3 separate regions of the Homo sapiens genome follow, and all the other regions are reported to be linked to region 1. The links are microRNA targets in miRTarBase. Many come from high-throughput screens and were not tested one by one. Region 1 holds a microRNA gene; each other region holds the end of a gene's coding sequence.
Evidence for each region. The annotated mature microRNA hsa-miR-4786-5p reads UGAGACCAGGACUGGAUGCACC and lies in region 1 at 1,209-1,230, shown strand. An mRNA with a match to its seed (bases 2 to 7 or 8) in the 3' UTR can be bound and repressed. Matches are read on the target gene's strand: a 7mer-m8 pairs with bases 2 to 8, a 7mer-A1 pairs with bases 2 to 7 and ends in A, and an 8mer does both.

Region 1 (3,252 bases):
GGGGACTTTGGCAAGGCTGCTGCCTACGTGAAATGATGGAAAGGTCTAGGCTGGCCCCAGGTCCTTTCTGGCATGGCCTCAGGATCTTGGCAGGAGGATAACAATGCCAGGAGGGGGTGGGCTGAGTCATGTGCCTCCTCTCAGGGGCCTGGCTGCAGTGGTCAGGGGCAGGGTGGCTCATTTTGCGGGCACCGGTGCCCTGCACCTGGAGGAGGACCAGCAACAGGACTAGCCAGGTGGCCGCAGGCCCTTAGGACACAGGGGAGGCCCAGGATTTATGGGAAGGAAGGAGCAGAGCACCTGAGTCTGGGGACATCTCGGGACAGGCACTGCCCCCAGCAGCCTCAGCTTCCCCCCATAAAAGGGACAGACGCTGCCCCATGCCTTTAGCTCCATCACTGTCCAGGGACAGGGACTAAACCCTAGACCCCTCATCCCCAAGGAGTCTTGGACTGCAGGTCCAGCTCTGCAGAGGGGCTGCAGGGAGCATCCAGGGCCCATACTCGTCTGCTCATCTCTCAGTCTCTGTGTTTATGGAACACCAGGGGATGCCAGTGCTGTGCCAGGAGGGGCGGTCGGTGCTGAGTGAGGCCTGCTTCCCAAATCAGGCACATTCTTATGAGACTAAGATTTGTCCCTGCTCATGGACATTAAAAAAATGTCAAAGACAGCAGGATTAAGCGGAATCACAGTGTCCTGCCCCCAGTCCCTAACAGAATAGAAAGGAAAAACTAGAAAAATAATCCCAGCAGAAAACAAACAAGGCCATACACTTTGAAAATTTGTAGCCAAAGACCAGGTGTAGTGGCTCACGCCTGTAATCCCAACACTTTGGGAGGCTGAGGCGGGAGGATCACTTGAGCCCAGGAAATTGGGGCTGCAGTGAGCTCTGATTGCGCCACTGCACTCCATCCAGCCTGTGTGGCACTGTGAGACCCCATCTCAAAAAAAAAGAAAGAAAAATTAGTAGCCAATAAAATAAGCAAAAGATTTCAGAGTAGAGCAGAAGGCAGATTCGTGTGGCTCTGACCTGCCACCAAGCCTGAGTCCCACTGGTACACAAGCGGAGCCCCAGGCCGCCTCTGTGCTTGGGATCTGGAGACAGGGAGTCTTGCAATGCCTCTGGCAGACATGGGAAGATAACTGTGAGTTGAAACTCTCCGTAAGAAGTGGAGGCTCCAGGGATGCGTTGGCCTGTGGGCATGGCCTGAGACCAGGACTGGATGCACCACTCTCCCTGTGATGAGGTGAAGCCAGCTCTGGTCTGGGCCATTTCACAGGATTCCAGAAGCAGGAGCAGAGCCTCAGCATTTGAACGAACCTTCTTCCACTTCGGCTGAGCTCCTCCTGCCACCACCATCCTTGCAGGCTTCCCGAAGGTGGCCTGAACACAAACTGCCTGGGCTTCCTGTGGCTAAGAGGGGAAGACGAGCCTTTGCCAGGTTTTGTGGAAAGAGTTAAAACCCCTCCAGTGCTGTGTTAAAACATATGAGGACCCAGTCAGAGCTGCTCGGGCTTGAAGAGAATGGAAAGGCAGGGAAGGGGAGGGCAAGTGACAGGCAAACGTCCCACAGAGAAACCCGTGACTCAGTGCTGGAGAAGGGACCACAGCATGCGCAAGATAAACATGCGGAAGGCAGAGGACGCACAGCTCGTGAACAGAAAAAAAAAATATTCCTGTGCTTTGCCTAAGAGAACAGTTTGATAAGAACATGAATTCAATAAAATAAATGTCAACAACGTATAAGACTAAGAAATGAAAATAAGATGTCAGACCTCAGGAAGCAAACAGAACCGAAACAGTGTCAGAACCAAACCAATACATTTCAAACAGCAACAAACGACATAGCAAGGCTGAAATTGCTATTGACAGAAATCCATCGTTCTCCAAGTGTGGCTCCTGGACCAGCGGCCCCAGCCTCCACCTGGGAGCTTGTCGGAAATGCAGGTGTCTAGGCTGCACCCAGGCCTGCTGGCTCAGGCGCCCTGGTGGGTGGGCCCCAGCAGCATCTGTGTTTAGCAAGGTGATTGCAGCGCACACTACCGCGTGAACACCGCTGCCCTAGAGGAAAGGCTGAAGACAGCCACAGTAAGTAAAGGTAAACGTGGTAGAGGGATGAAAACTGTTGTGAACTTTGTATATGTAAAACTAATTTATAGGAAGGTGGACAAAGGCAGTCCGGCAAAAGAATCACTGGTGTTCAGACCAAAGTGATTCCAAGTGAAATAGTTTGTGCACACATGGTGTGATCTTTCAATATGCAGAATCCATTTGTTTTTCTCATTTCAGAGGATTTTAAAATCTAAGGTCCATACTGTTTTGGTGCAGAAAATTCACTAGTTTTACTTTCATTTGCTTATGTTGAAAACTGATATTAAAATAAATTAAATGTAATTTAAAATAGCATTGATAGATCCCATTTCATGAAAGCATACCTGTGTTTCTGTTGATATACAGGCATAAAAATATCAGGATGTTGTTCACTGATGTAGATGGTTTTTCTGAAGAGAGGAATTTGGAATTTTTTTTCCTTTCTTCCTTGAACCTTTTTTTCTTTTTTTTTTTTTGAGACAGAGTCTTACTCTGTTGCCCAGGCTGGAGTGCAGTGGTGCGATCTTGGCTCCCTGCAAGCTCCGCCTCTCAGGTTCAATCATTTTCCCACCTCAGCCTCCTGAGAAGCTGGGATTACAAACGTGCGCCATCATGCCCAGCTAATTTTTGTATTTTTAGTAGAGATGGAGTTTTACCATATTGGCCAGTCTGGTCTCCAACTCCCGACCTCAGGTGATCTGCCCGCCTTGGCCTTCCAAAGTGCTGGGATTATAGGTGTGAGCCACCACGTCCTTGAACTTTGTCGTTTTGATGTCGAGGAAGGAACCTCTGACACCGAGGGTGGAACAGCCGCAGTTCTGTGCCCCCGGTGCATTCACATCATCGGGCGTGGGAAGTGTCTGTCCCTGTTTGTGAAGATACTTTACCCTATGTGCCACTCCCATTGCCCTTGTCCAGGGAGGCCAGCATTCCCTGTGCTTGAGAGATCTTTTTGTTTGCATATGTTCTGACATAATGTGTTGTTTCGTGTGTTTGCATTTTTAAGGAACGTAAATGGTTATGGGTCATACGTCTATTGCCTGTGTGTTTTCACTCAACACTGCCTCTGTAAGCTCCTTCCTTGTTGCCGTGGGTGCATCTGGCTTGCCTGTTTCTGCACCTTGTAGTGACCTTGCTGCTGTCCAGTTTCGCTTACCCTT
Region 2 (3,252 bases), not on the chromosome of region 1:
CAGCCTCAGCACTGTTGACATTTGGGGCTGGGTAATTCTTGTTGGGGGGCTATCTTGTGCATTGTGAAATGTTTAGCCATATCCTTGGCCTGTACCCACTAGGTGGCAGTAGTACCTGCGCAACCCCACTCCCGCTTCCCCCTCCCCCGCCCCCATCACAGTGTCTCCCGATACTACCCAGTGTGCCCTGAAGGGGCAAAATCACCCTGGGTTGGAGACCGTTGCCCTAAAGTAATGCTTTTCAAAGGTAATAGGCAAGATAATTCAGGGTGGGCTGCAGTTTCCCAGCCCAGATATTGTTTGAAGTCTGGGATGGTGCCAGAAATCTGCATTTAATTAAGCATCTCCCTCCCCTAATACTGCCACCATTTTGATATAGGTGATTTGAGGATTACACTTTCATAAACACAGCACTGGATATACTAGTTACTAGGGAGAGGATGATGAGTAACTAACTTGAGCTTGCATTTTCTGCCATCCATATTTGTTTCTGGAATTAAAACTGTCCTGTAGCCAGGATAACTTTAAGGGCTCCCCTGGTAGTTATAAGAGCTCCTTAAATAATGGGAAGGTTGAACTACACCAGTAGATAAAGGACTAATTTCCATTTTGTTTTTATATATGATCTGTCACCCCGTTATAAGCAGTTCATGACGGTGTTCTTTCTAAATTATTTTCTGGAATTATCTAACTGACATCTTCACTCCACAGCCGTTTCCCTGGGGAGATGGTAACCATACTCTATTCCATAACCCTCATGTGAATCCACTTCCAACTGGCTACGAAGATGAATAAAGAGAATCTGGACCACTACCCGGGCACCAGGGACCACAGCACTGGTTTGGACCGTTACTCTGCACATGGACCAGAAAAAGTATATGGGACCTTAAGCTCACCTTCTTTACTTGTATCAAATGATGACTGGTATACTGGTCTCCCATCCCTTTGCTTGTGGCAGGAGATGGCTTAAATAAATAACTTAAATTTAGATTGGTCATGAGCTGAGAGTTACTTTCTTTGGTTGTGTTTTTTCGCAGAAATTAGCATTTGAGCTTCAAGTCAGTGTCCAAGTTGAAAAGAAATTGGCATTAGTTATTTCTGTTTCCACAGTGAAGGTCTAGGCTGCTGTTTAGTGTTACAGGTCCAATTCAGCCCATTGAATAAGTGTTTATAACAGCCCCTCTTGGTTTATTGTGCCTGATGTGGATAAAGGGACCAAGTGGAGTGGTGCTAATTAAGCATCAAGATTAGTCCTTGGTCAGGTGCGGTGGCTCATGCCTGTAATCCCAGCACTTTGGGAGGCTGAGGCTGGCAGATCACCTGAGGTCAGGAGTTGGAGATCAGCCGGGCCAACATGATGAAATCCTGTCTCTACTAAAAATACAAAAATTAGTTGGGTGTGGTGGCGCACTCCTATAGCTGGGTGTAGAGGCTTGAACCCGGGAGGTGGAGGTTGCAGTGAGCCAAGATCGTGCCACTGCACTCCAGCCTGGGCAACAGAGTGAGACTCTGTCTCAAAAAACAAAAGATTGGTCCTTGACGGGCCTGAGATATCAAAGACATTGAATGGCTAGCAGAATGCCTGCAATTTACACCTGAAAGAGGTATCTGTATTTCTCAAGAGGAAGTGCTTGATCTGGGTCTCATCTTTTTCCTGTCCCATTCCACTAGCATTTACTGCAGAATCTTCCCTGTAGTCATAATTTTCTTGAACATGTCAAGTTCTTTTTTTTCTTTTTTTTTGAGACGGAGTCTCTCTCTGTTGCCCAGGCTAGAGTGCAGTGGCACGATCTCCACTCACTGCAAGCTCTGCCTCCCAGGTTCAAGCCATTCTCCTGCCTCAGCCTCCCGAGTAGCTGGGACTATAGGCACCCGCCACCACACCCAGCTAATTTTTTGTATTTTCAGTAGACACAGGGTTTCACCATGTTAGCCAGGATGGTCTCGATCTCCTGACCTCGTGATCCACCCGCCTCAGCCTCCCAAAGTGCTGGGATTACAGGCGTGAGCCACCGTGCCTGGCCTCGAATGTGTCAAGTTCTTACTTTGAGGTAATCTCCTTCAGGGCTGGTAGGGTCAGAAATCTTAAGAGAAACAAAGGGAGCGTGACACATTTCTGCTTATTGGCTTTTCTGTGGAATTAAAACTATCCTGCTTTAATGGATAGTAAATGGTAGTAGTAGTAGTTACAAAACCACTCTGAGAGGGCAATTATTATTATTATTATTATTATTATTTTTTTTTTTTTTTTTTTTTTTTTGAGATGGAGTCTCGCTCTGTCGCCCAGGCTGGAGTGCAGTGGCGGGACCTCGGCTCACTGCAAGCTCCACCTCCCGGGTTCACGCCATTCTCCTGCCTCAGCCTCCCAAGTAGCTGGGACTACAGGCGCCCGCCACTACGCCCGGCTACTTTTTTGTATTTTTAGTAGAGACAAGGTTTCACATGTTGGCCAGGCTGGTCTTGAACTCCTAACCTCAGGTGATCTGCCCACCTCAGCCTCCCAAAGTGCTAGGATTACAGGTCTGAGCCACTGTGCCTGGCCAGAGCTGGTTTATTTTATTTTATTTTATTTTTTGAGACAGAGTTTCGCTTTTGTTGCCCAGGCTGGAGTGCAATGGCATGATCTTGGCTCACCACAACCTCCACCTCCCAGGTTCAAGCAATTCTCCTGCCTCACCCTCCTGAGTAGCTGTGATTACAGGCATGTGCCACCACACCTGGCTAATTTTTTGTATTTTAAGTAGAGATGGGGTTTCTCCATGTTGGTCAGGCTAGTCTCAAACTCCCAACCTCAGGTGATCTGCCCACCTCAGTCTCCCAAAGTGCTGGGATTACTGGCGTGAGCCACCGCGCCCAGCCAGCTGGTTTATTCTTAAGGCTCAAAGGAACACTTTCGTGGTAAGGTTCAAGAGGCAACAAGGTATTTCATATTATATTACATTAAACTGGTAACGCAAAAGTAAGGCATATACAGTACGGAATAGAGAATCTCATTGTCTTTGCCATTTTGTAATAATTAACGGAATAGAGAATCTCATTGTCTTTGCCATTTTGTAATATTACAGCCTGCACTTCTGAGTCCCTATAGAGCTGTTTTGGTTGTGGCCAGTCTGAGTTTAGGACAGATGCATTATACTTCAGCTTGCTGCCTGGCCTCCCTTGGCTGGGTTCCAAACATCTTTTATAATCCTTGGATAATGGACCCTAGCCAGTCATAAAATATAAATGAAGAATGTTTTGAAATGACATTAA
Region 3 (3,252 bases), not on the chromosome of region 1:
CAACACGGAGTCAGGAAGACCCCTACCTCTCAATCTATGACCCCCCTGTACCAGACTTCACCATTATGAAGACGGAGGTGAGTGAGGGGCTATGATGGGTGTCCTTCGTGTGCCATGAAAATCTCTGGCAAGGGTCACGATGTGGAGGACACCTGGGGCTGGGTTTCCTGTCAAGCCCACTTGGCGGAGGGTGGCCCCAGGGCCTGCCCATTCCTTCCTGTACCAGGGACCAGGCCTCTATGCTGACTGAGCCTGGGTTGTGCGAGAAGGTGGCAGAGCTCTCCCTCGTGCCCTGGGGACTGTCCTGGGCCCATGAGCTGATGAGAGCAGAGTCTGAGCTGCACTGCCTTATCATTTCTTCCTGCCCAGGTCCCTGGCTCTGTCACTGAATACAAGGTCTTGGCACTGGACTCTGCCAGCATCCTCCTGATGGTACAGGGGACAGTAATAGCCAGCACACCCACAACCCAGACACCAATCCCTCTGCAACGTGGTGGCGTGCTCTTCATTGGGGCCAATGAGAGTGTCTCACTGAAGCTTACTGAGCCGAAGGACCTGCTGATATTCCGTGCCTGCTGTCTGCTGTAAAGGCTGCAGCCTCCCCAGCTCTCCTCTGCCAGCCACCCTAAATTCCAGCCAACCTCACCTCCTCGGGCCCAGCTCAAGCCCCCTTCCTTGCTCTGGACCCCTTAGGTATACCCTGGAAGAGCTGGGGTGGGGGAGGAGGGAGCGTGAAGGTAGTGACTCCTGAACACACCCAGGTGGAACCATCTTTGGGGAGGAGAGGCCCGTGTGAGGGGTCTGATACTCCCTTTGTCTTCCCTCTCTACTCCTCGCTACACCTGAGCCAGGCTCTTGCCAACTCTGTTCCAGCCTATGGCTTTAGGCTAGCTGTTAAATATGTGACCCAGCATTAGCTCAGCATCTGTCAGAGCAAGAGACCAGGTAATTTCTAAGAACAGGGTTCTAGCGATGGGACTGCCCATTTCCTCAGCTGCAGAGGAGGAAAGGGAAAGGGTAGGCCTGTAGACTAACGCTGTTTACACCCTTGTTCTGTCAAAGCAATTAAAGATCACTTGTGTTGAGGCTGTGGGGTAATGAGCACTCAGCCTTTGGGGTACCTGTTCCTAAAGTGGGCCAAAAGAGCCCTCCCTACATGATGCCCCAGTTTTTGCTTTATTCCTATTTCATACAGCTTCTCGGGGGAGTGAGCAGGCTACACTCCAGAACACCGGTATGGGAAGGAGTGGGAGAGGAAGCCAGCTTTGGCCTCACAGGCACAGCTTGCAAGCAGGCCTTGGGTCTGCCCAGAGGCACAGCTTGCAAGCAGCCCTACAGAGAAGGTGACTCAAAGGATACACCAGTCACCAGTGCAAGACTCTTCGCTCCTGTTTTTCTCTTTTTTTTTTTTTTGAGACGGAGTCTCGGTCTGTAGCCCAGGCTGGAGTGCAGTGGCACGATCTCGGCTCATTGCAAGCTCCGCCTCCCGGGTTCACGCCACTCTTCTGCCTCAGCCTCCCAAGTAGCTGGGACCACAGGCGCCCACCACCACGCCCAGCCAATTTTTTTGGTATTTTTAGTAGAGATGGGGTTTCACTGTGTTAGCCAGGATGGTCTCGATCTTCTGACCTCGTGATCCGCCCACCTCAGCCTCCCAAAGTGCTGGGATTACAGGCGTGAGCCACCACGCCTGGCCCGGCTCCTGTTTTTCAACTGGCCCTAGAGGAGGGGTCCGCAAACCAGGCTGGCAGGCCAGTTCTGGCCATACCTGTTCATTTCCATACTGTCTGGCTGCTTTCAAGCCACAGTGGCAAAGTTGAAGAGTTGCACTAGACTGTACGGCCTGCAAAACTGAAACCATTGACTGTCAACCACTTCTCTACAACATACTCAACTGTTGCAGATTACAGGGACTCAGGAACCGAATTAGACAATTTTCATGGCGAGGAGAAGCCCAGTTAGCTTTCCTAAACGGGCAGGAAGTGTGAAGGAGGGAATCTCCTGATGCCCTGCTCCAGGGGTGGCACACACCTGCAAGAGGCTGTCGGCTGTCTGCTGCTGCTGAGGTTTCTGACCTGCAATCGTAGATCCTGTCACCACAGACTAATCACTTAGTCCACTGGCTCCTTCCTGTGGGATAAAGGTTTAAATTCATGCAAAAGAATCTTTCTGGGCTTCTGCCCACACTAGAGTCCCTATACAATGGAGTTCCAGGAAACCACCTTCAAAAATCTCCTGGGTTTTCTTGCCTCCAAATTTTCTTCAGCTAAAAAACAATAAAGATGAGCTGGAAAGAAAAGGTCTGCTAAAGGGAACCCATTCTACAGAAGTGACTTGCAAGAGCCTATTTCACTCATGCCGTCCAGTGAAACAGGCCCGAAAGTGATGCCCAGTGGGAACAGCAGAAAGGGGAGGGAGTTTCCAGAAGGAATTGCTGTAGTCAGCTGTTAAGCTATTTCTTCATTTCAGGATATCCAGGATATTCTTAACTTTTATTTTTTTGAGACGGAGTCTCGCACTGTCTCCCGGGCTGGAGTGCAGTGGCGCGATAGCTCACTGCAACCTCCGCCCACTGGGTTCAAGCGATTCTTCTGCCTCAGCTCCTGAGTAGCTGGGACTACAGGCGCCTGCCACCACACCCAGCTAAGTTTTTGTATTTTTAGTAGAGACGGGGTTTCAGTAGAGACGGGGTGACAGGATCTACAATTCCAGGTAAGGTCAGGTTGGTCTCAAACTCCTGACCTTGTGATTTGCTTGCCTCAGCCTCTGAAAGTGCTGGGATTACAAGCATGAGCCATTGTGCCTGGCCAAGGCCTTTAAAATCCACTGCAACACAGACACAGCTCAACTAGTGTGATTGCATTTATTCTTATAAATGTACAGAGCTGTAGAAGTGCAAGCCAAGAGTTCTATAGAGTAGTACATAAACACCATATGGTACCACTCCTGCTGGGAGGTAAGCCTGGATACACCCCTCTCCTCAGGAAACTGTCACCTGCAGAACACACAGCACTCAGAATTAAGGCAGTTTGGCCCTGGGCACATTGGTGGTATTTTGGTATGTGGCCACTGGCCCTAAACAACTGACCATTTCTACCCTGCCTCACTGCACTGTCCCACCAGGTCCCTCCAGCTTTTTCTACAAGGTAACACCCTCCTACATGGGGTCAGCCAGCTCAGAAACCTCTTCTTCAGGGACAGTTGCAGCTGAATATGCCAGAGCTGATTATTACAACAACGATGCAGAGGGCC

Region 2: miRTarBase lists COX6A1 as a target of hsa-miR-4786-5p. Seed matches in the 3' UTR shown: 7mer-m8 at 931-937.
Region 3: the mRNA of MPI is a reported target of hsa-miR-4786-5p. Seed matches in the 3' UTR shown: 7mer-m8 at 1,612-1,618 and 8mer at 2,725-2,732.

Annotation. Positions count from the first base shown.
Region 1 is chr2:239,941,041-239,944,292 of GRCh38, reverse strand. MIR4786 (microRNA 4786) reads left to right here and starts at 1,199; the gene lies at 1,199-1,278. It also overlaps a transcript of NDUFA10 not described here.
Region 2 is chr12:120,439,743-120,442,994 of GRCh38, forward strand. It overlaps COX6A1 (cytochrome c oxidase subunit 6A1), which reads left to right. Exons shown (of 3, transcript NM_004373.4): 3 at 712-988. The coding sequence ends at 795. Among named protein-coding and RNA genes, the nearest start is that of COX6A1, 3.3 kb to the left of the region's middle.
Region 3 is chr15:74,897,143-74,900,394 of GRCh38, forward strand. It overlaps MPI (mannose phosphate isomerase), which reads left to right. Exons shown (of 8, transcript NM_002435.3): 7 at 1-77; 8 at 370-3,252. The coding sequence ends at 588. FAM219B (family with sequence similarity 219 member B) reads right to left here. Exons shown (of 5, transcript NM_020447.5): 5 at 2,850-3,252. Among named protein-coding and RNA genes, the nearest start is that of FAM219B, 8.1 kb to the right of the region's middle. RefSeq lists an enhancer at 1,570-2,069.